Linked DNA regions of Homo sapiens. The protein of the gene in region 2 purifies or fractionates together with the protein of the main gene of each other region. This does not show direct contact. Each region holds a gene or a part of one and is shown on either strand. Other genes may lie near its edges. The genes, in order: SLC2A12, AGPAT2 and INTU.

What was found.
Region 1: the proteins of AGPAT2 (region 2) and SLC2A12 purify together in Homo sapiens (co-immunoprecipitation; one large-scale study listed by IntAct). This does not show direct contact.
Region 3: the proteins of AGPAT2 (region 2) and INTU purify together in Homo sapiens (affinity purification with mass spectrometry, with the first as the bait; one large-scale study listed by BioGRID). This does not show direct contact.

What each region holds. Positions count from the first base shown.
Region 1 is NC_000006.12:134,042,576-134,046,226, forward strand, and holds part of SLC2A12 (solute carrier family 2, facilitated glucose transporter member 12), read right to left. Parts: intron 1-3,651. UniProt on the Homo sapiens protein: Insulin-independent facilitative glucose transporter.
Region 2 is NC_000009.12:136,677,432-136,681,082, forward strand, and holds part of AGPAT2 (1-acyl-sn-glycerol-3-phosphate acyltransferase beta), read right to left. Parts: intron 126-3,651; coding exon 1-125. UniProt on the Homo sapiens protein: Converts 1-acyl-sn-glycerol-3-phosphate (lysophosphatidic acid or LPA) into 1,2-diacyl-sn-glycerol-3-phosphate (phosphatidic acid or PA) by incorporating an acyl moiety at the sn-2 position of the glycerol backbone.
Region 3 is NC_000004.12:127,705,937-127,709,587, reverse strand, and holds part of INTU (protein inturned), read right to left. Parts: intron 3,102-3,651; coding exon 2,619-3,101; intron 1,018-2,618; coding exon 920-1,017; intron 1-919. UniProt on the Homo sapiens protein: Plays a key role in ciliogenesis and embryonic development.

The DNA.
Region 1 (3,651 bases), on a different chromosome or scaffold from region 2:
AGGACAAGTTGTCGAGTTGTGGGGAATGGGGAAAGGGAGAGACACCAAGAGCTCAGTATGACAAGAAGCCTGAGGATTTTTTAAAAGTTGATTTATAAGAAACTCCTGGCTGGGTTAGGTGGCTCACACCTGTAATCCCAGCACTTTGGGAGGCAGAAGTGGGAGGACTGCTTGAGCCCAGGAGTCTGAGACCAGCCTGAGCAACATAGTAAGACTCTGTCTCTATTAAAAATACAAAAAAATTAGCTGAGTGTGGTGGCGTGCACCTGTAATCCCAGCTACTTGGGTGGCTGAGGCAGGAGAATTGCTTGAACCTAAAACATCAAGCCTGCAGTGAGCTGTGATTCTGCCACTGCACCCCAGCCTGGGCGACAGAGTAACACTCTGTCTCAAAACAAAACAAAACAAAACAAAACAAAACAAAAACCAAACACACACACACACCCCAAAAAAGAAACTCCTTATGGTGGATTTGACAAGAGAATTTTCAGGATGGGCCTACCTAATATTCAATTGCACTACAGCACTCTTCAAATTCTTAGTAAAAATCTACAAAGAGCTTATATGAATGGGATTCAAGAATATGAAGGAAAGGGGGCTGCTGTCATCTAAGAATGGATTGGAGCAGGGATAAGAGAAAAGACCAGTTGCTGGAAGTGGAGGGCAAGGACCCAGAAAAAGCAGGAAGTTGGTGCAGGAGGGTGATCAGAACCACGAAACTCCTGAAGTGTACTGTGTGTGTTTGGATGGGAGGCTGGTGGGGAGGAAGGAGGCATGTGGATTTAACCATAAGGGGCCTGCAACTATTTTTATTTTAAAATTAAAAGAATGGTGACACCATAAAGCTGTAGAATTTGGAGACATGTAAATGAGGATTTCTAAAACTCCCACTTCTGTCACCACTACCGTCACTTTTAGAAATTTTCTTGATTTCTCAGGCCAGGTGCAGTGGCTCACACGTGCAATCCCAGCACTTTGGGAGGCCGAGATGGGCGGATCACCAGGGCAAGAGATCAAGACCATCTGGCTAACATGGTAAAACCCCGTCTCTAGTAAAAATACAAAAATTAGCAAGGTGTGGTGGCATGTGCCTGTAGTCCCAGCTGCTTGGGAGGCTGAGGCAGAAGAATCGCTTGAACCCGGGAGGCAGAGGTTGCAGTGAGCCGAGATCACACCACTGCACCCTAGCCTGGCGACAGAGCGAGACTCTGTCCCAAAAAAAAAAAAAAAAAAGAAAAGAAATTTTCTTGATGTCTCTAAATTAATATGGTCTCCTTCCCAAGAATTCCTGTTTTCATGGTACTTAGTTCACAAAAGTTTTGTGACATCTTTTGTAAGCTAAGGAAGCTGTGCCTGCTGCCAGCTTCAGATTCCTTTGTCATCCTCTTTCCCTGCTTTGAACTCTGTGCTCCCAGAATTCCGAAGTATTGGAAGCTCCCTGAACGTGCCATTCTCTCTTCTCCAAACATGTTCAAGCTATTTTCCCTCCTTAGAATGCTCCGTAAAACTACTGGCCTCAGTTACACGTGCTCGGCTCAACTTAGCCATCCTGTCTTCCAGGAGTCTCCAGGGACTGGCTGAACTTCCCCCTTTGCTATCATAGATATTACACATAATACATGTATAATATCAAGCCATCTCCTCCATCAAAGGATTCCTGATCCCTCATCGCTCTCCACTAATTGGCAGTAAGCACCTGCACTGTGAGGATGCCTTTCGTTTCTCACCAGACTCCAGGGTCTGGCATCATATCTGATTCCTACTATCCACTCAGTATTTGCTGAATGGTTATCTTGCAGTTAGTTCGATTTTTATTTTTTTGATAAGTTGGTAAAACCTACAGACAAGAATAAAGGCCTGGGCACAGTGGCTTCACGCCTGTAATCCCAACACTTTGGGAGGCCGAGGTGGGTGGATCACTTGAGGTCAGGAGTTTGAGACCAGCCTGGCCAACATGATGAAACCCCATCTCTACTAAAAATACAAAAATTAGCAGGATGTGGTGGCAGGCATCTGTAATCCCAGCTACTTGGGAGGCTGAGGCAGGAGAATCGCTTGAACCCAGGAGGTGAAGGTTGCAGTGAGCCGAGATAGCGCCACTACACTCCAGCCTGGACAACAAGAGTGAAACTCCGTCTAAAAAAAAAAAAAAAAAAAAAGAATAATGTCTTAGATACATTTTTTTTTAACCCTGAAGCATCCAGCACTGTGCCTCTCATGTAGTAGGTGCCCAATATGTATTTGCAGAAGTAAAATGCTCTTTAGTTCAGCAATCGCTTCTTTACTCATTGACTCCTTCAACAATTAAGCATGAACTATGTGCCAGCACTGTCTGGCAGGCAAGTTTCATTGACGGCTATTGCAATCAGCCTTCATGGTTGCTGGCAGCATCGTGTTGAGATGTTTCCTAGGTTACATCTGGATTTAATGGCACTAGAAGGTGGTACTTGTGCCACATGGATGTGATCCCTCATGTGTAGGCTGGAAATACAGAGAAAAAGGCATGATTCCTACCTATTATGAATTGCACAGAACTTTCCAAGCACTGTCAGTCAGCTCAGAGCTCTGATAGGTGCATGAAATATATATTTTATCGAGAAACTTATAATCTTATAGAAAAATACAAGTTACATAAAAAGTTAGGGAATTAACTAAAACAGAATGCAAACAAGTCCTGAAATGAGTGTAACTGGAATCCAAATTCACAGATTGGAAAGTAGAAGCATTATTGCTGGCTGGTAATATGGGTCAAGAGAGCAAACCTGGACTGGATTTAGGAAAGTAAGGTTCAGATCACTGTGCTGTCCTCTAATATCTGTGCTACCCAAGACAAGTCCCTTTGCTTCTTTCCAGGAGGAACCTGGGCTTGAAGGTGAAGAACAGTGTGGAATCAGAGTCCTAATTAGTTACCGGCTAGACTTTGATAAGTCCCTTAAGGTTTGTTTCTCTCTGTGTCCTCATTCACAAGATAAAGATAATAATATTACCTCCTTCATAGAGTTGTAAGAATGAATGAGACAGAAGAGACCCTGGTACCTGGTAGTAAATGATTGGTAAATGTTAGCTGTTGTTCTTAGCCTCAGTTTCCTTATCTGTGAACTGGGGTGCCTCATGGGGTTGCTGTAAAGATCTGAAGGGATTACAGTAGTAGAACCACTTGGCCCACAAGAATCATTTAACAAAAGCTCCTTTAATCTGAATCTAGAAGGTAAAATCTTCATAATACGGAGGTAAAGCTTTGAAACAGTCTTTTACTGATAGCAACAGAAATAAAATAATACCTTATTTCCAGCATAACAATTGTGTCTTTCATAAATTCTTGAATTCCTTTGCTTTCAAAATTGGCAGTACCTACATAATTGGGCTTGCAGCATGAAAAATTCCTCCTGTGATTTTGTCTGAAGGTTTCTGCAGCTTAGTTTCCCAATATAAATAAAACATTTCATTAGTGTGAGGATGCTCTCTCACCACACAAATTGACCCTAATTACAACTTCCATTTCCCCTGTTCTTGAAAAACTTTGCACATCTGAAGCTGAGCTGTCATGGTTTTTTAATTAGTATTACTCATAACTCCCAACTCTAACTTCCATAAAGTGTGGAAATGTGTGTGGGAGCAAGACATTTTGTATAAAATAATAATGGGCACTGC
Region 2 (3,651 bases):
CCAGGATGCTCTGGTGGTTGGAGACGATGACACAGGGACGGGCCTCCTGCAGCCTGCGCGGGTCCCGCACCTCGAAGCGGAGCCCGTAAAAGTACTTGAAGCTTCGCACGAACCAGCCGATGATGCTGCAGGGGAGGCCACCATGAACACGGGTCCCACAGATCCCGCAGCCGAGGCTGGGGCGCGAAGGCCTGGGGGTGGGGTGTGGAGGAGGCTGGGGAGGGGCCCTCCTGGCACGGGGCAGGAGACCGGGAGACACAGGGGAGGGAGCCCCTGAAGCGGACAGAGTCCCGGGCCCGGCTCACCCACCTGGACGGCTGCCCTGCCTCCGTCTCCCCAGCAACAGAGGAAAACCCAGAGCCTCTGGAACTCGGATGCTAGGAGCATGGGAAGGCGCCCACTTCCAAATCCACATCCAGGGCCCACCCAGCCCTCATCCACCCCACAGGGGACCCAGCCGGAAAGGAACTGGCACTGGCTCTCACGTCCGCTATGAAGGACCCACGTCGGGGAGAGCAGCCTCTGCACCCCAGCAGAGGAAATGGGGCCCCACACACCCTGGGGAAGGTCACTGGCCCCTCAAGGCAGGGCCACATCAGGAAGAAAGTGTCGGCGCCAGTGGAGACCTCTGAAACGACCTCCGAAAGGTTCTTCCAGAAAAGAGCCGAGACCGAGACCCTCTCTCACCCCTACCCTACAGAATCAGGCCGGTTCCCTTTCCCCGTGAAGAGGCGGCGAGGGGCTCGGGGCTTGTCTGAGGTCACACCAGGAGCAGCAGCAGAGCCAGGGTCTGGGCCACCTGAGCCCTGGCCACAGCAGCCCCCACTCTGGCAGGGGCCCAGCCCACTGGGGGCTGCCCTTGGAGCACCTGCAAATGTGAGGTGGCCTTGTCCAAGCAGCCCGTCATGGTTGGGACCAGGGATGTCCAAGGGGTACCCGAAGACTCTGACCAGCTCCGAGCGTCCCAACCTCTGCCCTGCTGTGCTGCCAGGAAGCTCTGGGCACACCCCAGATAGGGCACCCCATCACAGGGCAGCCGGCGGGGATGGAGCCAGGAGGACGGAGCTCCACTCCGAAGCTCCAGCAGGGGTGGATGGCCGGGGCAAGGCTGTGCCAGCGCTGACTGGGGGGCTGCCAGTGCTGCTCCCCTCTCCATGCAGACTAGTGCCCCCCACCATTTGATCCCCCAGCAGTCCTAAGGGCCCCACACTTTCTACAGATGAGTCTGAGTAACTGCCCCAGGCCACAGAGCAGAGATTCAAAGCCGGGGCCTTCTCTCAAAGCCATACTGGTGGGGATTTTTGTTGTTTTAACAGGGTCTTGCTCTGTCACCCAGGCTCCCCTTGCTCTGTCTTGCTCTGTGACACAATGTGTCACATTGTGCAGTGTCACAATCTGGGCTCACTCCAGCCTCCACCTCCTGGGCTCCTCCCACCTCAGGCTCCTGACTAGCTGGGACCACAGACGTGAGCCACCACACCTCGCTAGTTTTTGTATTTTTGGTACAGATGGGCTTTCACCATCTCTGGCCAGGCTGGTCTCGAACTCCTAGGCTCAAACAACCTGCCGACCTCGGCCTCCCAAAGTGCTGGGCTTACAGGCCTGAGCCAACTCGCCCGGCCTTTAAAAAAAAATTGTGGTAAAATACACGTAACATAAAATGTATCTCCTTGGCCTTTTCCGGGTGCACAGTTCATGGGCGCTGGGCACATTCGGTGTCTAGCAGCCATCTCCTCCCTCTATCTCCAGAACTCTCCACCTTCTCTGGCTGACGTCTGTTCCCATGCGACACAAACCCCTGTCCCCTCCCCAGCCCTGGCACTCTGCCCTTCCATGTGTGAGCCCAGGCCTGCGGCAGCACCACCTCAGGCTGATGGGGCAATGCTCATGACCCCCTGTTGCAGATGGGGAAACTGAGTCAAGGGGGGCCTAATGGTTAATTCTGGTGATGAGTCCAGCCGTCCGTCCCTGGACTTGGAAGCCTGGGGCCTCCTCAGATCTGCCTTCCTCAGCCAACTCTAGATATCTCCTCTCCAGGCCGCGCCGGCCACCGTCCCCTCCCACCCAGAAGGCACACCCGGGCTGGTAGCACCCGCACACTCAGGGGAACTGCAGGGCTGTTTTGCCTCCACACTCATTTGCGCAATCCAGCTTCCCGGACCCCTGTGACGCTCCAAGAAGACGAGGAGGCAAAAGCCGGCAGTTCACCAACAGGAAACACAGAACTGTCTGGTGCTAGCAAGACGGCCGTGTCGCCAATCAAAGAAGCGCAAATGGAAACAAGAGACTGTCCTCATCCTTCCCCCTGGCACAGATTAAAACGCCTGATAACAGGAGGTGCCAGCCAGGGTGTTGGGAACAGGCCCAGCGGCTGGCAGGAGTGAGGAGTCGCACAGACAAGATACTTCTGTGGAGGGCAGGTTGGCAGGCCCGGCCAGAGCCCTGAGGAAACCTGGCCCCTCCCCTCTCAGAATCTTCCAGGAATTCGCCCGACGGCTGGAGTGAGAAGCCTGTGGTGCTGAAGTGTGCAGTGAATTAGGAAAACCTGAAAATGCTTAAATAGCCACCAGTAGAAAGAGGGAAAGTAAATTAGGGTCCATTTCACAGACAGCTGGGGCGCGGGGAAAGAACAGGACAGGTCCACACTCATCTCCTGTGAAGGACATGTGTATGATTTCTAGCAGCAGCCAAGACACACCTGCAATTCCAAAGCTAGCTGCCTGCAGGAGGCTCGGGCCACATCTGAAAGGGACATTGGTTCCCTCTGGTAGTGACATTGGCCAGTTCCATCTTTTATTTACTTTTTTATTTTTGAGACAGGGTCTCACTCTGTCACCCAGACTGGAGTGCAGTGGTGTGATCTCAGCTCACTGCAACCTCTGCCTCCCGGGTTCAAGCAATTCTCCTGCCTCAGCCTCCTGAGTAGCTGGGATTACAGGTGCCTGCCACCAGGCCTGGCTAGTTTTTGTATTTTTAGTAGAGACGGGGTTTCACCATGTTGGCCAGGCTGGTCTCGAACTCCTGACCTCAGGTGATCCTCCCACCTCGGCCTCCCAAAGTGCTGGGATTACAGGTGTGAGCCACCGCGCCCGGCCAGCTAGTTTCTTAGTGTTAACAACTGCATCTTGGTGATGTAAGATGTTAACAAGGGAGGAAACTGGTGAGGGCCACATGGGGTCCCCCGTAATATCTTTGCAACTTCTCTGTAAATCTGAAATTATTAAAAAATAAGATCTTCATTTATTTTTTATTTTTTTTGAGACGGAGTCTTGCTGTCACCTAGGCTGGAGTGCAGTGGCGAGATCTCAGCTCACTGCCATTTCCACCTCCCGGCAAGCGATTCTCCTGCCTCAGCCTAGCAAGTAGTTGGGACTACTGGTGTGCGCCACCACACCCGGCTAATTTTTGTATTTTTAGTAGAGACGGGGTTTCACCATGTCGGCCAGGCTGGTCTCAAACTCCTGACCTCATGATCCGCCCGCCTCGGCCTCCCAAAGTGCTGGGATGACAGGAAGGAGCCAGCGCGCCGAGCCCTCCTCTGTTTTGATTGTGGTATAACACGCACCACCTAAACAATATAATTGTACCCATTTCTCAGCACACGGTTCCGTGGCACTCGGCGCATTCACTGCCGTGTGGCCAGCACCACCC
Region 3 (3,651 bases), on a different chromosome or scaffold from region 2:
CCACATAAGTGCACAAGAAGTGAATATATAACATTTCATATTATAATAATTACAGACAGTTTAAGTTGCTAAACATTCTCTCCTCACTCAGTTTCTTTTACCTCAGAATTCCCTACTCAATGAACGTTTGAAATTATACCTATTTTCTAAAGAGAGTGTTATGGGACAAGTTCCTTGGGACCCAAACTCTGAGAGTGAGATATGCCGGGAGGAAACTTATTAGGAAGTACTCTTGGGAAAAACAGCTGTAGGGGTGTAGTGACTGAGCAGGATTGAGCAGAGGGAGAAGATGAACTGTGCTGCAGCGGCAACAAGTCTCAGCCGATACCACTGTGTACTCTGAAGCTTGGCTGGCCTTTCAGAGTTGTCTTCAATTTAGGCAAGGGGCCAAGCCTTTGTACTCACTTATTTATTAGTCATTAGAAATGGGCTCCTCCCAGGGAGGAATGTAACCTTAGCTGAGTCAACAAGTTTCCGTGTAGGACACGGCTAGGGGAGTGACAAGGCTAGGGGAGCTGTGAGGCATTAGCAGCCACCATTCTCAAGTGTTGGAAAGGAATACCCTGAGCTAAGGTGTAACTGGACAGCACACCACTGCATCCACCAAACACTCTAAAAAATAGTAAACTCTAATTTAAAAATTATATTAAATATACAAAAGGGAGGTTACCTGTGGAGAGATAAAGGGAGACTTTCACATTTTGAAATATTACTTTGTGTGTTTTTCTCTTTCATAATACTAATATGGTCATTTTCCTAAATGTGTAATGAAATATTAAAGAAATACCACAGATATTACCTTTAATATGTAAGATATATCAGAATTACATTTGTTGAGTAAAATACATGTTATAAAATTGTACTTTCTCACTGTAAAACTTCCTGAGTTTAAGTGAACAAGAATAAGAAAGTTTCTTACTTCACTGTGTTATATATTTCTAATTCTTTTTCTGGAAGGTCCTTTTTCAAGTTTCCCAAATGAAATGGATTTGGAAGAGTAGACTTCTTTTTAGTGACCTGAAAAATATAGTTAAGTAGATCAGTTTATATCTAAGAATGGAATCATATAGCAGAAACAATTTAAAAATTAAACATCCTTCTGAGGGAACTACTTACCATTTGCAATGCTTCCTTTAAATATTTTTGATGCTAACTTGTACCTCTTGGCTTATCCATGGCTGACAGGGATCCCAGGGTCATGTCCTGGGAGGGCATGATGGTGTTCCCTGAAAACCTCCTACCAGAGCCATTACCAAATTTGTATGTATGCATACTTGTCTCCCCTCCCTAGACTCTGCACTCCTCAAAGTCAGGGGCTGTGTCTTATTCATCTCTGTATCTCCTTTGTGTAGTATGGCCCTTGGCACTTAGTAGGTATTCAATCAACCTTTGTTGAATGGCTGAATCTTAAAGGTTAACTCAATTTCTCTTAGGAGCTATTCATGGCTTGGTAATTCTTTAATCTGTCCAAATCTTTTTAGACTATTTCCTACCAATTCCATCGACTGTGATAATAGGTATGGTACTGATGTAAGTACTTCCAAATACACCCCACTTAGGGGTCCAAAAGTATTCTATTGTTTGGTATGAGGAGATTGCATCTGGTTATTTATGCCATGCTACTAGCATTTCATAGTTTATTTGTGCTCCTTCTCAGACTCCTCATCTGGTGTCACCTCCATCCACCCAAATGACAAGTTTCAAAAATGTTTTGAAAGACGACAGCATCACTAGAATAAGTACAAAGCCTCCCAGGGTGAATGTTTTGATAATCATTTGGATATTTTATGGTATTTTCATGGGAAAAAATTAGGAAAAATGATCTGAAAAATGAACATCCTCTTTAGAGTCAACTTTTAAATCTTTAAGTGTTACAAAGGTTCAGATTTTAAAATCTATAAAAATAGGATAATACACACAGAGACATACACACACACACACACAGACACACAAATACACACATTTAGGGTTCTGATTCTCTTTGCTGAATATTTCATTGGCTATTTAGTCAGATCAGCCCCCAACAGGCCCCACAGCTTGGATGCTCTCTGTTGTCATTGCAAATAGGGAAGAGATGAACACGGAAATTGAGATTAAAGTTTTCCTATTTCTAAGTACTGTTAAACAGATATGAATGTCAAGGGGTTCTTATCTTATTATTTGATATTTCTTTTTTTTTTTTTTTTTTTTTTTTTGAGACAGAGTCTCACTCTGTCACCCAGGCTGGAGTGACAAATCATGCAGTGGCACAATCTCGGCTCATTGCAACCTCTGCCTCCTGAGTTTAAGCAATTCTTGTGCCTCAGCCTCCCGATGCATCTGGGATCACAGGTGTGCACCAACGTGCCTGGCAATTTTTTTGTAATTTTATTAGAGACTGGGTTTTGCCACATTGGCCAGGCTGGTCTTGAACTCCTGGCCTCTAGCAATCTGCCACACCTGGCCTGATATTTCTTTTTCTTTTTGGTTCAAAATCATTGGTTTGCCAGCAGTGACTGAAATAACCACCATGTCAAATGAAGAATGGTATGCCACTAAAAAAATGTCTTGCAATTATAAAACAAGGACTGGAGAGACAACTTAGCTCCCAGAACATACACACTTGAATAAGCACACACCTTAAGCAAGGTCCCACTTTCTTCTAAACCATCAGAGCCCTGAGATTCTCTTTGCTTCCGTACTGCATCCGGTGTAGTATGGGGGCTAAAGCCATCATCTTCTCCACCTTCACAACCATTGTCAGATCCTCCACTACTACAGGAAGGACTAGGCTTGCGTGTCTTTAAGGAATAGTCACCAAAAAGCGTTCTTCTGCATGTTGGAGAAGTTGCTACTTTGGAAGTACCTTGTAGCCTACTGAGAATAGGCGAAGTGGTCAAGCTATCTGTTTTTTCACGTGATCCAGTAAGGAACCAGTCAGCACAAGACAAACAGGGGACTGGAGAAGATGCTAGCCGTTCATCTATGCGAGAATCTACTCCATCCAGCTGGTGAAGAGTTGTTTTGACTTGATCCACATATACACAGTCTGGTCCAGGACTCCCAATAGCTTTGGATGCGCAACCTCCAGCTTCTAATAGTACACATAGCATATAATGTTTCTATAGGGAAAAAAATTACAAATGTAGGTTTAGCTACCATGAAAATATTTACATAAAATGTGCATGTATAAACTTATAAATATCGAAGACATAGAGGCCTATGGCATAATCATGTGATGATTATTAAAAATTCCTCCGTCATCTTTCCTTTTTGGTTATTATTAATGCTTCTTGATCCCAGTTGAAAACAATCTTACATTGCCTTATCTTGATATACCATCAAACCACTTCTTTTGAGACACAGAATTCCCTAAGATAGCTGTCAAGAGCCTCAGTTACTGGAAGTCCTTTCATCTACAATTGCATATTTATTCTGTTTCTGATTCTATATTATTTTCATGTCTCCCTCTATCTCCCAAAACAAGCCAATGGATAAAACCACTATAGAAAGGGGAACAAAAGACTTTAAAAACCTGCTAAAATATTTTCTTAGACTTTATTAATATTTGTCCATGAGTATTAAATGGATGCAAAAGAAAAGGAATAAGGGGACATGTAACATTTCCTTGAATACTGATATTAGACATACTAATAATTTTACATGAGCATG